Regions from separate parts of the Homo sapiens genome. Here region 1 is linked to region 2. A link means that fine-mapping ties the variant in region 2 to the expression of a gene that starts in the linked region. Tissue or cell type: whole blood. Region 2 holds a variant in brackets; the other region holds the start of a gene. All regions are shown on one strand. Distances are between the middles of the regions.

Region 1 (5,152 bases), 190 kb before region 2:
TAAGTTAAAATTGTATGAAGGTTTAATAAAAGGAATTGTTCTTTAAGACTTCAAGGACTTTCTGTCAGAAGTTGAAACTAGAGGATTTACCAGGATGTTTCTGGCTCTATAGGGGTCATGTCCCTTTCCAAGATGCCTCAGTTGACCAGTAAACACATTCTTTTCAAGGCTTAATATTAAAATAGTATCAAATTCTGATCTAATCTGGATCAGAAGAGAAAATACTCCAACCTACCATTGTCAACCGCAACACTGGTTGTGTTTAATGGTGATGGAATTCTGTCACTTCCACCAACACTTTTTGAGCATTCGCTGCATGCGGGGCATTCTGGTGTATACTGATAAGAAACAACAACCAAAGATAATTAAGATTGACCTCACCCTCCGAGATGTTTACAGTTTACTTTGCTTCCCTAAGCTTCAGTTTTTCCCTCTGCCAAAACAGAAGCTCGGAAGAGATGTCTCCAAGACACTTTCTACCATGACCTTTTGAATTTCATAACTCTCTAATTCCAGAATTCAAAGAGTGACTGTTTTACCTCCCACTGAATGATTCCTCTGAGAAAAAAGCTCTCTGCTAGCTAAGCTAGCCAAGACACCATACCTGAAGATAATACCTAAACTTCTGTTTGTGTCCCAGGAATCCCAAATTGATGTCACACCAAAACAATGTCATTTATACAATTCATTATATGTCACTCATTAATACATTTGCTTAGTTGATTTTCATTAAAATCCTGCAGGGAGCATTATTACACTCATTTTTCAAAAGAGATAACTGAGTCGTAAAAGGATTAAATTATTTGCCCAGGTCACACGGAAAGAAATTAACGTGGCCACGGCATAAAACCAGATTTTCTGTTTTTAAACATATTTTTTTCGCTGACCTCCACCCTGTAAGAGCTTTTATTACCAAGCGATTGAGAAGCACAGGCTCAGGGACACTGAATTTGACCAAAGAAGCCAATAGAACTATTCCAAAAACCTATGGTTCCCCCTAAAGCATTAGAAAGACTCAGAACGGGTTAAGTGCTCCCTGGCTCATTCCCAACAGACACTACATTCACCTGTGCTTGCTCTGAAATAAATCAGTGTCCCTTTCTGCTGCTGCTGTTGTCTGGAAATAATGCAAATGCAATGGGCCTTTACTGACATTGTGCTTCCCTGGAAGGATACACATAATAAATTATCCCTTAATACTGTTAAAGAGACATTTTCCTCTTACTCAGGAGCTTTTGGGGTTGGACTGGGCTACTCACCCAGCAAGGAGGAGGACATGTGTCTTGTCACTGGCCCGGTTATTCATGTGGCCTCTCATTGCTCCTTGGCTCACTGCATTGCAAGATTCAAGGATGCACTTCCAGGCCTCCACATCAAGTCATAGGACTTGCCGGTAACCTAGATTGGTTTTCTCATTTGTAATTTGAATTTATTTTATGTTATGCATTTGTATGTTTATTTATTCGGATGCTCAGAAGCTGAAGATAACTAGTGCTCCTGGTCCATGCCATTCATCAATTGGAAGAATGCCAAGCTGTTTCCGCTGAGGACAGAAGGCATTGGTCTCCCCTGCAGGAAGCCACTGCTGCTCCTTAATTGTTTGCTAGAGGAAGAATCAAGGGTAAAATTTAAAGTAAATGGCTGGCCGAGTTGCACTAATTCATCAAAGCATGTTTCAAGTCAGTAGTCAGAGCATGCATCAGCCCCCGGCGCCACCAGCTTCTACGAGAGTGGAAAAGCCAGCAGACCTCCGAGCAGATGAAATCATTAGGAGGCATTCAGCAGGGCTTGAAAAGCAAAGAGAGAGGAGGCGGGGATTTCTCTGCATGCTCCCTTTGCCACATGGGAAACACCAGCTGTCTGTGACCTAGTTATCCAAGAAAGGAAACACGGAAGAGAACCCACAAAACTGTTTGCTACATGAGAACCCCATTCTCCAAAGACATGCTGGATGTTGAGAAAACAATTAGCATCTTCTAGTTTGACTCTATTTTTTTTTTTTTTTGCTTAGAGATTTTTGGTAGCAATAAAGACAAGCCCTATTACAGTAGCCTAAGAAAATGGAATTTTTAGGGATAGCCCATGGATAGGAAGTAAAAATCTTGGTTCATGAAAGATGGGAAGTAGGAACTGGAATGTTTTTGGAAAATCTATCAGCATCTCACCTCTTTCTCTTGCTCTCTCTCTCTCATTACATGGCCCTTTATTTGTGCAACAATTCATTTTCCTACTTCTCTATGAAGGTCTCTCTTCTTGCTTTTAAGCATGAAGCCACTCATTCATTCAGTAAATATGTATTTAATGCTAACAGGTGCTGGCACTGCCCAAGATGCCAGGGCTACAGCAATCAACAAAACAGACAAAATCCCTGCCCTCGTGAAATGTACACTGTGGTGAGGCAGGTGAGGCAGGCAGAAACTGAACAAGATAAATAAGTAAAAGATACAGTGTGCAAGAGGGCAGTGAGTGCTTGGAAGAAAAGATCAAGGGAGGAGAAGTGAAATACTGGCAAAGTAGTTGAAATCTTAAATAAAATGGTCATGGGAGACCCCACTGAGAAAGTCATTTCTGAGTGAAACCTGAAGGAAGTAAGAAGTTAGCATTGCAATTGTCTGGGGCAGAGCATGCTGAGGAGAGGGAATAGCAGGTGCAAAGGGCCTGGGGTGGTTCAAGGAGCTAGCAGAGAGGCCATTGAGGAAGGAGGTTAAGCAAGTGAGGGGGATTAGTTAGAGGTGAAGTCATAGACCTGGGGGCACAGATCACAAAGCGTTTTCTAGGTCATAGTGAGGACTTTGGCTTTTACTCTGAGTGAGATCAGAAGATCCCAAAAGGCCACCACAAGATGATATTCACGTGGTCCACCTAATCCAGTAGTCAGTCCTTATTGCTAACTTGCACACAGTCAAGCTCCCTTAGTCTCCAAAAGAGGAGATCCAAGCAACGATACTTCATGAGCAGTCGGCTTCGAGAGTCATCCTGAGTTTTCAAGGCTGACACAAATATCAGTCTAACTACGCAGTCCACCTGTGTAAATATTTGGGGAATAGTGGATGGTTAAGGAAGAGACCTAGTATGAGATAAAGTGTCCAGGCCCTGCACACATTTGGGTCTCACAGAATTAACTGGCAAATGCTAGTAAGAGTATCAGGACCTTAGGAAATAGAGATTCCTTTAGAAAACTCTAATTCCCAGAAAGATTTTCACATAAGACCTTCACACAAAGACAAAATTAGAATGTGTGTTCTCTCACCATCTCCTTATCCAGAGAGTCCTTAGATGTGGCAGAAGGACCCACAAGAGTTGTCAGAGGCAGTTGTGAGGGGTTGCCAGTCATGTTAGTATTAATAGATATCATGAGAAGTTAGACACGTTTTTGAATAAATTAGAATGAATTAAATATTAACCCAAAATGTCATTATGCTCACTCCCTACCCTCCCACTATGCTTTCCTGACAGAGAAAGAAAGGGTGGCACTGTGGCTGGAATACAGAGCCCACAGGACTTCAGCATGTCCTACACATAAACCTCCTCCTTTTTGTGACCCTTGGTGGAAAAAGTATGAGAGCCACGTATCTTAGAAATAACTGCCTTTCCTCCCTAGATGCCTGCCACAAAAACAGACATGTTCTAGAACTTTCTTCTCCCTAGTTCCAAGAACACTGAACTCATGGTAATGGCCAAACAATGATCTTTTTCTAAGGACAATGTCAGAATGCTTTACTGTGCCATTTTCATAATCAGACACAAGAAAGTTACCATCTGTAGTTCAGCCATAGCACTTCACATGAAAGAGGAAATGACTAAATATATATTTACATAGCTCTCATGAATATGCATTTTGTAAATGCACAAATATGTACAATTACTTGATAGACTGTTTTGGTTCCTATCTTTCGAATATTTAATACAACTGTAAATGTTTAATTCATATTTACTGAGTTGATTGAACAGTTTCTAAATTATCCCAAGCCTTGCTGGAAACAAGATTGAATGTTTCCAGCATATTTGCACACTAGGATTTGGCCAGGAGAATCCACACTAACTGGTTAAATGATGATTTTCTTAGAAAGCATATTGAATAAGCTGCTGGTGAAATCATCTTGCTGACCACAACATAGAGGGACAGCACCAGATCTAATTCCAACCATGACCTGCAGAGCCTCTCATGACTAGGCCCCCCTGATGCCTCTTTGCACCTCTGTCTGCACTGCCCCTCATTGCTAAGCCACAATCAACCCATGTTCCACTTTCAGTCCTCTGCACCAGCTGCTCCATGTGTCCAGAATGCTCTTCACATAGACATCAAGCCTTTGCTCTAATGTCACCTTTTCAATGAGGTCTATCTTAACCTCTGCATTTGAAATTGCAATCCCATCATCCCCCAGAACTCCTGATATCCCCTACACTCCCTTATACTTTTTTGTCTATAGCAACCACCCCTCACCACTTTATAACATTTATGCTTTGTAGTCTGTCTGTGTCCACTCACTAGAATTCAAATATCACAAAAGCAGGAGTCCACTTTTTTTTTCATTGAAAAACTCCAAATCCTAGAAGGAAGCTGGCATTTAATATGTGCTCAATAGACATTAGAGGAAGAAAAGAAGGAAGGAAGGAAAGAAGGGAGGGAGGGAGGGAGGGAGGGAGGAAGGAAGGAAGGAATGAAGGAAGGAAGGAAGGAAGAAAGGAAGGAAAGAAAGAAAGTCAAGAGACCTGGGCTCAAATCCAGCATGGGAATAAGTAGGGAGGAAAGAAGGGAAGTCAAGAGACCTGGGATCAAATCCAGCTTGGGCATGAGGCAAGACCAGAGCAGAGGAGATTGTCCTTGAGCTCAGGTGACGCCCATCTGGCCAACTCTCCACAAAGCTGGGTCACACTGTTTAGAGGACAGTTCTTGGCAGTAGTAGTAGTGCTGGTGGGGAGGGCTTTGTCATTATATTGTGTGCGTGTGGTGTGGGACTCTTCCTTAGTTCAGCTAAAGACAAGCTCCCTGTCACAAGGCCATGAAAGATTAGGCTCGCAGACAATTTGAAGGGTGAGAATAATGGGATTTATTGAGCAAAAGGAAAAATGGGGGCAGAACAGGGACGCAGCAGAGCCAGAGTCTTCCTAGTATGTGCTTCCTGCTTCACAATTGAATCCCAGCTACCAC
Region 2 (5,152 bases):
GAAAAAAAGAAAGAGAAGAAGGAAGCAAGAAAGAAACAGATACAGTAGGGAGACAGAAATACAAAGAAAAACCAGCCCTTATTTGCCTAAAGTCCTCAGACAATTGTGTGTGTTGTGGGCTTAGACAGTATTAGGTTGGGGCAAAAGTAATTGCTGTATTTACTGTTAAAATTAAAGGGAAAACTGCAATTACTTTTGCACCAACCTAATAGAATTTTTCATCCTAGAACTACCTATCTTAGATTTCCTGGGAAATTTCTCTGCCCTCAGCTTCTTTTTTTTTTGCCAACACAGACCCACCCAGAGATGAAAACATGAATGTTTTACAAGGATGCTTGGTCATTAGTTTGTGACTCACACTGGCAAATTCTAAACTTCAGCTTGCTACCTGGGATACCTGCATGCATGCAGTTCCTCCAAACCTTTGGCCAAGAGCTCTTCACTTAATATTTTAAAGAGATTTTTGTTTTTAAAAAGAATGCATTTCATTTTTATTTTTTGAAATGGATCTCGCTCTGTCGCCAGGCTGGAGTGCAGTGGTGCAATCTCAGCTCACTGCAACCTCTGCCTCCTGGGTTCAAGCGATTTTCCTGCCTCAGCCTCCCAAGTAGCTGGGACTACAGACATGCACCACCCTGCCCAGCTAATTTTTGTATTTTTAGTAGAGACGGGGTTTCTCCATGTTGGCAAGGTTGGTCTTGGTCTCTTGACCTCGTGATCCTCCAGCCTCAGCCTCCCAAAGGGCTGGGATTACAGGCCTGAGCCACCGTGCCCAGCCTTAAAAAGAATGCATTTCTTTATAATTGTAGAATACACACAAAGACACAATGAAAAAAACAACCAAGTGTTAATCCGTGTTTGTTTCCTGTACTTATATACATGTATATGTAGTTATCAAGCCAGGCGCGATGGCTCACGCCTGTAATCCCAGCACTTTGGGAGGCGGGTGGATCATGAGGTCAGGAGATGGAGACCATCCTGGCTAACACAGTGAAACCCCGTCTCTAATAAAAATACAAAAAAAAAAAAAAAGAATTTAGCCGGGCATGGTGGCGGGCACCTGTAGTCCCAGCTACTCGGGAGGCTGAGGCAGGAGAATGGTGTGAACCCGGGAGGCGGAGCTTGCAGTGAGGTGAGATCACACCACTGCACTCCAGCCTGGGTGACAGAATGAGACTCTGTCTCAAAAAAAAAAAAATGTAGTTATCAAAATACATTTACGCTGTGCATGTATATCACTTCTTATGTCTGGAGTTCTACTATTGCTGGATACGTGCTTAGGACATAGCCAGGGAAGCAGCAGGAAGGTGTACACTCTGGAAACTGACATACTTCAGACCAGTCCAAACTCTGATACTTGGTGGCTGAAGACCCTAGTTAAATTACGTAAGTAAAGTGATGTTCCCCCATACTCTGCCAGGACTCAGGGACTGTCCGAGTTTACACCTGCTGTTTCAGTGTAATTAATAAGAACATCCCTTTAATGCTCAAAATGTCCCAGTTTAAACAATAAGTTATATGGTCCTTCTATCCTTCACCCTGTGAGCTTTGCTTTTCTCTACTGTAAAAATATAGAAAACAATATCCATTTCCAAAGAACTATTATGGGAATTCTATTAATTATCTTTGCTGTGTAACACAAACTACCCCCAAATTTAATGGCTTAAAACAACAAGCACATTTTTAACTCACATATGTTCCAAGGATCAGGAGTCTAAGCATGGATGAGAGGGTGGTTCTGGCTTAGGGTTCCTCCTGAGTCCTCTGTCACATTGTCACCTAGGGCTGCAGTCATCTGAAGGCTGGATTGGGCTGGAGGATTTGCTTTCAAACCCATTAACCTGGCTGCTGGCTGGAGGCCTCAGTTTCTCACCATGTAGGCTTCACCTTGGGGCTTCTCATGACATGTGAATGATCCAAGAGAGAAAAAGAGGGAACACAATGGAAGCTGCCAATATTTCTAATCTCAAAAGTGAGAACGCAGCCTGGTGCCGTGGCTCATGC[T/C]TGTAATCCCAGCACTTTGGCAAGTCAAGACGGGAGGTTTGCTTGAGTCCAGGACTTCGAGACTAGCCCTGGCAACATAGTGAGACCTCGTCTCTGCGAAAAAGAGAACTAACCAAGTATGGTGGCATGCACCTGTAGTTGCAGCTACTCAGGAAGCTGAGGTGGGAGGATTGCTTGAGCCCAGAGGTCGAAGCTGCAGTGAGCCGTAATTATGTCACCGCACTCCAGCCTGGATGAAAAAGCGAGACCCTGCCCTTTAAAAAAAAAAAGTGAGAAACCACCAATTCTGCCACATAGACCCACCCTGGTACAATGTGGGAGGGGACTACACAAAAGTGTGAACACCAGGAGGGAGGCAGGATCACCGGGGCCTTCTTCAAGACTGGCTACCACAGAACTTAACGTAAATACTGCTTGTAAAGTCCCTGGAACATAGCAGACATGTAGCCAATGTTAGCTACTTCAGAGCAGGATCAGACAAGAAAATCTTCTAAAAATAATAGGCAGCCCTGGTAAGTTCTTCACAGCTAAGGATTTAAATATTATGTCTTTCTTATAAGCCAATTCAATTCAGTTCCACAAATATGTATTATATACCTACTGCTTGTTATTATGTCCTTGAAGCCAACGGCAATTCACAACTAACTACTGAGTTGTTGTAGATCCTTAAACTCATTACTTATATAAACAAAAAGGTACTGTTTTCTAATTCAAGATGTTTCTTTATATTCTTAAACTTCTGAAGATGTAATCTTAGCATGTCATTTGAGTGTCGCTGTCAGAAGCATTTGATGTTTACTCCTACAAAGTAAGACTAACAGAGTTTTCTGTAGTCAATGCACAAATAAGCTAATTTGCCTGGTGTTTGAATATACATCATATTGAAGTCAAGGCTGCAATTCTAAGCATGTAAGAAGAAGAAGAGAAGTTAAGTAAGAATTCATCTAGCCCTATGGTGGACACAGTCGTTGATGCTTAAAAACAATGAGTTTTGATTGAGCTTACAGAATCCATTCAAAAGGTAAGCTAAACTAAAATTTCAGACTTCAACACTAAACAATTCACCCATGTGACCAAAAACCACTTGTACTCCAAGAGCTATTGAAACAAAAATGTGTTTTCTAAAAAAGTGAGCAAAACATATTACCTCCACTACCTGGGGCTGCAGTCATCTGATCCAAGTTACCATTACATGAATTATTGTGATAATTTTTCAGCTATTTCCCTTTCCTTCTTCCTTTGCCCTCCACCCTACCTATTCTCAACACATCATTCAAAGTGACCCATTTAAATATATCTGATCACATCATTCCCCTGCTCAAAAACTCCCAATGGAGTCACAGAGGCATTGATGCCCTGGCCATATCCATTCTGCATTCAGCTGTGCAAGTCAATTAGGCTCTGCAACCCTCTGCCTCAGGGCCCTTTTCCTGGCTGGAGAAGCACACATAATCAAGTCCAGGGCAAACAGAATGTGCCAGATAGTTAACACCTTTGGACATGGCCTTCAACCACCAATGGTCAGAGAGCCGGTGGATCAGTTTCCCAGGTCCTTCGGCCTGGGTGGTGATGACATGCAAGCATTCTCTACACTGTCTCCCAGTGGTCCCTTGCAAGACAGAGTTGCAGTTGCTTACAATCGCAACCAGCTTGATATTACCCCTTTTACTGGGTTCTTTTTCTTTCCTGTCTTACCTCTCCACACCTATTCTGGTGCTTCCTGGAATCACTTTCCACATAAACTACTTGCATTCAAATTATTGTCTCAGGATATTCCTCTGGGTGAACCTCCACCCAAAAAAATGGCTTCCCCTTCCAGGGCAAAGGCCAGAGTCTGTGCCGTGATCCATGAGGCCCTGCACACTCTGCCCTCCTATCGTTCTTCCTCACGTTCACTACACTCTAGCCATCTTGGTTTCCTGGATGTTCCTGGAACATTCTAAGCATGCCTTCAACTGAGCAGCTTTCCTCCCTGATTTCCTGTTCCTGAGATATTTGCTTATGTTTATATGTTATATGTTTATAGCCAACACTCTACCACCAGCCCCTCCAAGTAGAATATAAACACAGAAAGGAAAGTGACTTTGCTCTGGGTTTTTTCTTTTCTTTTTTTTTTTTTCCTTTTTTTGAGATAAGGTCTCACTCTGTCACCCTGGCTAGAGTGCAATGGGGTGATCTTGGCTCACTGCAACTTCCGCCTCCAAGGCTCAAGCAATTCTCCTGCCTCATCCTCCCAAATAGCTGGGACTACAGGCACACACCACCACACCCAGCTAATTTTTGTATTTTTAGTAGAGATGGGGTTTTCATTATTTTGGCCAGGCTGGTCTCAAACTCCTGAGCTCAGGTGATCCACCTGCCTCAGCCTCCCGAAGTGCTGGGATTACAAGCATAAGGCACCGCACCTGGCCTGCTCTGTTTTAGTCACTGCATCATTTCTAGTAATTAAAATAGTGCTGGATACATAGTAGATGTTCAACAGATACTTGTTAAATTATTGAATTAAGGATGACTTGAATGAAACCTGATTAGGTCCAGTAAAAATACTTGTGAAATACCTGCCAGGCCCCTAGCTGTTATTATTGGCGCCCCTGCAAGGAACCTTCTACTTCACCATGAATAATCCAGTCTTTTCACTTTCCACATGATGAGGACCAGAGAAGGTAAGCATGTTGCCTAATATTACAGAGCTCCCCAGTGGCAGAGCTAGGAGCAAACTCTAGCTCCATCTGGGTTGTGGAGGGATGAGAACCAGTCTGTCTCGGTTTAATCTCAGGTGTACCACTTATAAGCTTTGTAACTTGTAAATAACCCAGGCAAATTTCTTAACCTTTCTGAGAACCAGTTTTCTCATCGGTAGAATCAGATGAAGCACCCATTTCAACAAATTCAGATGATTACACAATATAATGAGTATAAAAGAGCTTGGCACATAGTACGTATTTATTAGGTGCTCATTGAATCTAAAGAAGTACTAACTTAAAAACATTCAGAAGAGCAGGCACATGCTTACAATAATAACAGTAATACTTTATTGGGACTAACCAAGTCCAAAGCACTATGCTAAGACATTTTACATGCCTTATTTCATTCAATCCTTACAACACCCTCTGAGGTTGATTCTAATTTTATCTCTTTCTACAGTTAA

Evidence for each region. PIP is the estimated chance that this variant, and not a neighbour inherited with it, causes the effect.
Region 1: it holds the start of CASC8, and the variant in region 2 is fine-mapped to the expression of CASC8 in whole blood (TOPMed, PIP 0.93). The same link has a PIP of 0.9 or more in blood mononuclear cells.

The regions. Positions count from the first base shown.
Region 1 is chr8:127,479,469-127,484,620 of GRCh38, forward strand. It overlaps CASC8 (cancer susceptibility 8), which reads right to left and starts at 2,671. Exons shown (of 6, transcript NR_117100.1): 1 at 2,166-2,671; 2 at 1,260-1,603; 3 at 236-338.
Region 2 is chr8:127,672,778-127,677,929 of GRCh38, forward strand. No RefSeq gene overlaps it. Among named protein-coding and RNA genes, the nearest start is that of CASC11, 59 kb to the right of the region's middle. The variant T/C (reference allele first, on the strand shown) is at 2,005.